Homo sapiens: one gene and its partner. The protein of the gene in region 1 interacts with the protein of each later gene in a biochemical or structural test. Each region holds a gene or a part of one and is shown on either strand. Other genes may lie near its edges.

Region 1 (3,743 bases):
ACGCCTGTAATCCCAGCTACCTGGAAGGCTGAAGCAGGAGAATCACTTGAACCTGGAAGTGGAGGTGGCAGTGAGACAAGATCGCGCCATTGCACTCTAGCCCGGTGCACTCTGGGTGACAGAGCGAGACTCCGTCTCAAAAAAAAAAAAAAAAAAAAAATTAGCCAGGTGTGGTGGCACACGCCTGTGGTCCCAGCTACTCGAGAGGCTGAGGCAGGAGGACTGATTGAGCCAGGGAGGTTGGTCAGGGTTGCAGTAAGCCATGATCACACTACTGCATGCCAGCCTCGGTGACAGAGTGAGATTCTGTCTCAAAACGAAACAAAACAAAAAAGAATTTTCACCAGTTTTACAGAGGAATGGGTTCCTTAAGCTGTCATGCTGGAAGCTGATCTTATCTAAGGCTGCTTTTGTGTTACAATGGTAGAGTTGAAGAGTTGAATAACTCCAACAGAGATTCTCTAGTCTACAAAGTTGAAAATATTTACTATGTGGTCCTGTACAGAAAAAGCATGCCAACCCTTGCTTACTGCTGCCAATGCTGCTGGTCCACAAACCACACTTTTAGCAGCAAGAACTTAAATTACTTGAGAAGCAGTACTGTACGGGCTGTGAGCTTGGTTCAAAACCCCACCTTGCCATTTACTAGATAAATGGGTTTGTTCTGAGGATTAAATGTGCAAATGTCTAGCACTTTGAAAATACTGAACAATTGATAGCTGTTATCATCATGTTGGAAACTATGTGGAAAGTAAGTATGAGATGTTATATCGTTCTTCAAAGGGTTTTTTTTCCCAGAATATGCAAGCTTTAGAAAAGGGAAACAAGTATTGGCTTTCCAATAAACAAGACGCAACTTCTAATACCTGGGTACATAACAATATTACCTAATGAAAGAATAAACTTTCAAGCTTTTAAGCGTAAGCCTAACTTAAGCCTGACACTGAAATCCTGAATTTTCTATCACAGGAGCATCCAGCTTCTTCCAATAACAATGAATGAAAATAACCTTCAGGAAATGCCAAAACCCAAAAGTCCTATGAAAAAAAGCAGCAATCATCTTTAACATGAGGTTTTGGGCCTAGTTGGCCCTTCCGGTTCTGCCCGTCTCTAGCTACACCCATAAGATGATATAAAGAGAACCTCTCGAGCTTCCACCTCGACTGTCACCGCAGCAGTCGGGGCTGCCGGCCGGTTACCTCGCAATTGAACTCCATCTCGGCGTCCATGGTGACGATCCTCACGGTGAACGTCTTGGGTTGCTTCCTCTTGAGAGAGCTGAAGCTCATGCGGGAAGCGATGGCCCCGGCCATGGCGCGGGGCTCAGGCCCGGGACCCTCGCGCCCCACGGCCTGCACTCTGAGCCCTTTAGCCCCCCTGGAGTTGCTGCACAGGCCTCAGGGCCACCATGGTGGCCGGCTGCCCGGCCCGGGAACGGTCTGGGCTGCGCGGGTCCCCAGCGGCCAGCATGGGCCGCGAGGACCCTGCCTGAGCGGAAAGGGGAGTTGGGGGACGGGCCCTGACGGCTGCAGGGAGGGCACAGGAGCCGGGACCTTCGGTGCAGGCGCGACCCGGCACTCCGGGATTCGGGCCGGAGATGCCGGGGACGCCTCGGGACGGGACCCCTAGACGGCAGCGGCCCAGACTCCGCGCGCCTCTCAGCGGCCGACTAGGGTCACGGGGCCGCGCTGCATCGGGCGCGTACGCGCGCGCGTGGCTGTCACCGTCCTCACTCCGCGCGCCCGCGGGAAGCGCACCCTCCCCACAGCCCGGGGCCTGCTCCCGGCCCCGCCCTCAGGTCGCCCAGACCACTACGCGCAGCGCAACCGAACCGGAGGCTGACGCATAGATGCTGCGATTGGCTGGGAAGGCCAAGGTAGGCAGGACTTTCCCGCTCCGTCCCGCCTCCTTTGGGGTGACTCCACCAATGGAAAGTTTCACTCTAACTGCAAAAAAAGCAGGCCTAGGCTCGGCGTTGAGTGGCTACAGTGGCAGTCACTCTGAATGCTTTTGTGCCTACTCTAACAAGACTGGTTGAGGCGGCGGACCTCTGCTGACCTTACCCGGGAAACCACTTAGAGGCTGGATCCGGGGCGAGGGGAATTGGGTCCTTCGTTGGCCCAGGGAGGGACTCTTCGGTTCAAGTAGGCTCCGAGTGTGGCGCCCCAGGGGACTGCGTTTCGGACACACGGCGAATATTCTTCTTTGGCAGTTAATCACATATACCGACCCCTATGAAACTTTAAAGACACTTGTGGAGGCCTGTTAGGTTTGCTGGCACTTTCCCGCCAGATCCCTCTGCTTCCCTTTAGAATTATTATTATTATTGTTATTATTATTATTATTAATTATTATTATTATTGGGACGGAGTTTCGCTCTTGTTGCCCAGGCTGGAGTGCAGTGGCGCGATCTCGGCTCACTGCAACCTCCGCCTCCCGGGTTCAAGCGATTTTCCGGCGTCAGCCTCCCGAGTAGCTGGGATTACAGGTATGCGTCACCACGCCCGGCTAATTTTGTATTTTTATTAGAGACGGGGTTTCTCCATGTTCGTCAGGCTGGTCTCGAACCTCAGGTGATCCGCCCGCCTCGGCCTCCCGAAGTGCTAGGATTACAGGCGTGAGCCACCACGCCCCGCCTAGAATTATTATTGGTTATACCTACCTCGTGAGGTTGTTGAATTTCAGCGCACTGAATACATATAAGGCTTTAGAGCTGAGCCTGGCATCCTATGAAATTGCTGAATTTGGGTTGAAAATGAAAGCATTCTTTATTTTATACTCTATGATGCCCATTTTTGAACCGTATTCATGTATTATTTATTTAGTGTCATCAAGGGTTCTAACGGGTGTAGGGGGGATAATTACACCTTTCTGTACTTAGATAATAAATTCTATTTTAAAATAGCTCTTAGTAGTCAAATAGGGACAATTTACTGTGTTTTTTCGTTTGTTTTTTGTTTTGAGACAGAGTTTCGCTCTTGTTGCCCAGGCTGGAGTACAATGGGGCGGTCTCGGCTCTCTGCAACCTCCGCCTCCCGGGTTCAAGCAATTCTCCTGCCTCAGCCTCCCCAGTAGTTGGGATTACAGGCACCCGCCACCACGCCCGGCTAATTTTTGTATTTTTAGTAGGGACGGGGTTTCACCATGTTAGCCAGGCTGGTCTCAAACTTCTGACCTCAGGTGATCTGCCCACCTTGGCCTCCCAAAGTGCTGGGATTACAGGCGTGAGCCACCGCGCCCGGTGTACTGAGTTTTAACAACAATAATCACCCCATAAATGTTAGCTAACATTAGCATCACCCCCCCAACTCCACAGGTGAAGATACTGAGAGATATGATAGAGCCACTCGCTGACTATAATGCAGATAGTGAAAGGCAAAGCTAGGACTCAAACCCAGGTCTGTCCCACCCAGAGCCTGCTGGTTAGCACTGTGCTGCCCTGCTTCCAAATTCTCCCTACTACAGCCTCAGGAAATGTGAATTACAGTTCCGGAGTACTCAGCAGACATTGTTGCTGTAACGGTATATTAATGGAATAAATCTAGTTCTTCTGCACGGACCCCTGCTGTGCCTGGTAGCACCGGCCAGGCCTCAGGAATGATTTGCTGCCACACCCAGTGAGGCTGCTGTGGGGACTTTATGTCCTGCCTTCTGCTAGCAAATTCTCCCCACCAAAACTGATTGCTCAGGGCAGTATGGGCTTGGCATGGGAGTGTCTTCATTATCATTGCTTCATTTCTTCC
Region 2 (3,743 bases), on another chromosome or scaffold:
CGGCTCCCCTCTGCCTGCACTGGTGATGCAGGGCGCCCCTCCGGCAGAGCGCAGCCCAAGAAGAGGTGCAGGAGGGATCATCCCAAAAGAAAAGACTCTCCCCTGCTCACACCTAGCTGACCTGGTCCTCCTGACGCCACATCCAGCAGAAGCTGCAGGACAAGGTAGCAGCAGCTCCAGGCCTCGGCCAAGGGCAGCCCCGGGCCTGGGTGGGGCCGGGCGGGGGCCGCAGGCGCCGAGCGGCCGTGCCAAGCCCCGCCAGCGAGAACCAAGGAAGCTGCGATACTGCTGCATTGTGCTGCATCACGGCGAGGGCACCGTGAGCCATCCATCTTGCCAAAAAAGCACATCCCCGCCCAAATAAACCCCACCGAATTCAATTTTCTGCTCCGCCGAAGCACCCCCACACGCACCCTGTCCTCACTTACTATCTGGCCTGGCTTTCGATTGGAAAAATAATGGACAGAGGTTTGCGTTCTGATCCCCACCCCCTCCTCATCTGATGGCAGCAGTTGGCACCTTTCCTATCACAAAAACAAAGAGAAGGCGCCCCCTAAAAGAGGGCCGTGGGCGTGGTGTGGGGGGTGATGACGAGCCAGCCCACCTACCCAAAGCAGGCCCGGAGGGTCCCTGCGCTGAGACAAACCTGTTGAAGAGAGGGTGGCAGGAGCTGAAGGGCGGGCGCAGCGGCGGCTCGGCGCCCGGAGGCGGCTCACGCCCAGCCCTGGGAGAGTGGGGACGGCAGAAAGGGCGGGGGGGGGGCGGGCGCACGAGGGTAGCAAGCGCAGGGATGGGGCGGAGGTGGGGGCGCGGGGCCGCCGCCTCCGGCTCAGCTGCAGCGCGGCGCAGCCGGGACCACGCCTGGCCGCATCCCCTGCACCGCTACGCGCAGAGCCCGGCCCTGTCACCGCCGCCCCCGCTCCCCACCCGCGGGGCCACAGAGAGGGCACCTGAAAATAGACCCTCCGGCTGTCCGCTGTCCGCTCCGCACCCACCTCCGCGCCAGGGGCCTCCGCGTCAGGGGCCGCCGCGCCCGGCTGCAGGGAGGCGCCGGCGGAGGCAGGGAGGAGGAATCGCCGCGCCGCGCCGGGGCTGGGGCCGGACGGCAGCGGTGCGCACGGCGGGTCTGCTGCCGCCTCACCGCAGAGCCTGCCGCCCCTCGTCCCGCATCATCCGAGTACCAATGAGCACCCGCGACCCGGGCTCCCCGCGCCGCCCCCGCCCGGGCTTTGCAGCCTCCCTGCCCCCACGCGGCTCCCCGGGCGCAGGGCAGGCGGGCAGCGGCGTCCTCCGGCCCTGGGCCCGCGCCCCTCCTCCCGCCCGTCCGCCGCCGCGGAGCCCACCCGGGAGGCAGCCCCAGTGAGTTGGCATCTCCCTGCCTCGGGCCCCCTACCTACCTCCCGGGGATGGGGTGGGGGCGCCGGGGTCCCGTCCTCCTCCCGCTCCTCGGCGGCCGGGCGGGTGGGCCGGGAGGCGACTCCGCGGGTCTGTCCGCGGCTGGGGCCGGGGCTCACAGGACGGGACCAGTGGGCGCTGCTGCGCAGGGCTGCGCGCTCGCTCCGGGAGGAGAGGCGGCCGAGGGAGGGACTGGAGGAATCCGCAGCCTGCACGGCAACAGCGGCACTGATTCCGGGGGCTGGGCGGGAGCGCGGGGGGCGGGGGGAGGAGGAGAGGAGGGCGCTCGCAGGGAGGGGGCGAGGGGCGGGGAGAGGAGCGCGCGGGGCGGGCGCGCGCGCACACACACACAAGCGCACTCCCGGGATCCCTCCCGCACGCCCTCCGCCCTCCGCACTCCTCCCTCCCCACTCCCGCCCGCTCCCTCTGCTTCGCCCGCCCTCTCCTCCTGCCCGGAGCCCCGCAGCCGCCCAGGGAGCCGAGCCTCGGGCGCGTCCACGTCCTCTCCAGCTGAGGCTCTTCCCGGGTCCAGCCCGGACCTCATCCTCCCAGCGGCGGGGACCGACCAGGCTGGCCGGGGCGGGGTGGGCACTGCTGCTGCCGCTACCCGAGCAGGACAATAGGGGCTTTGTCTCCACAGCCGGAGAGGGCCAATTTCACGTTTAATTTGAGGCTAATTCGATTATCGCCATGGAAAGAGGCGGTCTAATTTTCTACGTGATTTGTGCAGCCTCTTTTCGCCCTTGATGTTGCGTTCGGAATGCTGGGGAGAGAGGGTATTTAGGGAGGTTTTGGAGCGTCACTTGCTTGGTTGGTTTGAGATGCAGTTGGTGATGCCTTATAGGTTCTACCCAACTTGGAGAAGGGCGACGGCGACCTCTTCGTGGGAAACCTTGGGCGCTGGAGGATGGGTGGTGGGGGTCGTTCCTTGTGAGGTTAATGTATTCTTTTGCAAATGCTTTTTCGCCCACCCTTTCGCTTTGGGTAGCTGGGAGCAGACCCTACAAGTGGTTCATCCAACTCCTGCCTCTCAGTGCAGGCTCCGCTCGAACCTGAGGCCAGGTGCCCTGCCCCAGTCACTCCCGAGAGAGGGGTCGTCCGGCCGCGGTGGAGGGCCCCGTGATGGCGTGGGGACTTGCGTTTTCCCCTATGCGCATTCCCTGAAACGGAAACTGGACGTTTCCTCAAATTTTTGTCATGTGCCACTGCCCCTTCCCAGTCACCTGGTCTACCCCGTCAGCCCCTCAGGCTGTGTAGAAATTCCAGAACCGTCACTGTTGTGAAGAAAAGATGGTGGAATCACCAGGACCACGAATGGAAACGCTCTTTAGAAAAGCAGTTTGAAGAAACTGACTTTCTCCTTGTTCTGTAAAGTGCACAGGGCGGCACTGCGGGCATTCAGAGGGAGGAGGGCCCTTCCTGTTTGAAAAAGCCCCAGGGCTTTTTCCCCATACAGACCTGATCACCTGGATTAAAATAAAACAAAAATACACGGCAGCCAAGTAGTTTGTATCATGCTTATATCTCAGATCACTAGAACCTGGCCTGATGGGTTTATATGTTTGTATGTATTTTTAAATGAATATTTTAAAATAAAACTCAGTGAAATCGTCACAGCAAACTGAAGATGATTCTTCCTTTTAGGCCTTCATAGGTTTGAATGTTTGAACCTATGTTTACTTTTGATAGGAAAAAAATTGAGGAAAGCAAATAACATTTTTTCTCAGAAGGTGAATCAACACAACCAGACCGTAAACTCTCTTAAAGGTAGGGTTATTTCTTTCTTCACTCTGTACATATAGCAGGCACTTAGGTACTAAAACAAATTTGTTGAATTGAACACAATCAACTTGTAAGCTGCTGCCCTCATTAGGTAATAAGGGAAATCCACTAGAAAGCAAAGTTGTTTGCCTTTCACTTACTTATTTTTTTACCATGGACCCCAGCACCTCCCCACTCACAATGTTAATGAAATACCAAAGAAAACAGTAACAATATTGGGAAGTGCATCCATTTAAATTAATTCTTCCAGTGTTATTCTGAAATGGTTATTCCTTTATCACAGACAACGGTATTTAAATAAATTTTCATTTGATGAATGATTCACCTCCCTTACCCCATTCCACTCCCACTTACGTTGTTTTTTAATTAAAAAAAAAAAAAAGGCCACACACACCTTAGCAAGGTACTCTAGTAAAGCCCCAGTAATTATTCCAAAAATGTGAAAGACAAGGATTCAGAGTTCTACTGTAAATACCTGCATCACAATTTTGAATTCTTACCCTTAGGTGCAAAAAATCACCCTAGAGAACTCAGTGTACCAACGACCAAAAAGAAGTAACAATTCA

The links. Proteins that work in one complex are often made in the same cells at the same time.
Region 2: the proteins of NF2 (region 1) and SPTBN1 form a complex in vitro, tested with the Homo sapiens proteins (2 studies listed by BioGRID and IntAct).

What each region holds. Positions count from the first base shown.
Region 1 is NC_000022.11:29,601,569-29,605,311, reverse strand, and holds the start of NF2 (merlin), read right to left. Parts: upstream 1,680-3,743; 5' UTR 1,314-1,679; coding exon 1,200-1,313; intron 1-1,199. UniProt on the Homo sapiens protein: Probable regulator of the Hippo/SWH (Sav/Wts/Hpo) signaling pathway, a signaling pathway that plays a pivotal role in tumor suppression by restricting proliferation and promoting apoptosis.
Region 2 is NC_000002.12:54,454,173-54,457,915, reverse strand, and holds the start of SPTBN1 (spectrin beta chain, non-erythrocytic 1), read right to left. Parts: upstream 1,590-3,743; 5' UTR 1,398-1,589; intron 1,186-1,397; exon of another isoform or gene 951-1,185; intron 750-950; exon of another isoform or gene 609-749; intron 525-608; exon of another isoform or gene 429-524; intron 208-428; exon of another isoform or gene 113-207; intron 1-112. UniProt on the Homo sapiens protein: Fodrin, which seems to be involved in secretion, interacts with calmodulin in a calcium-dependent manner and is thus candidate for the calcium-dependent movement of the cytoskeleton at the membrane.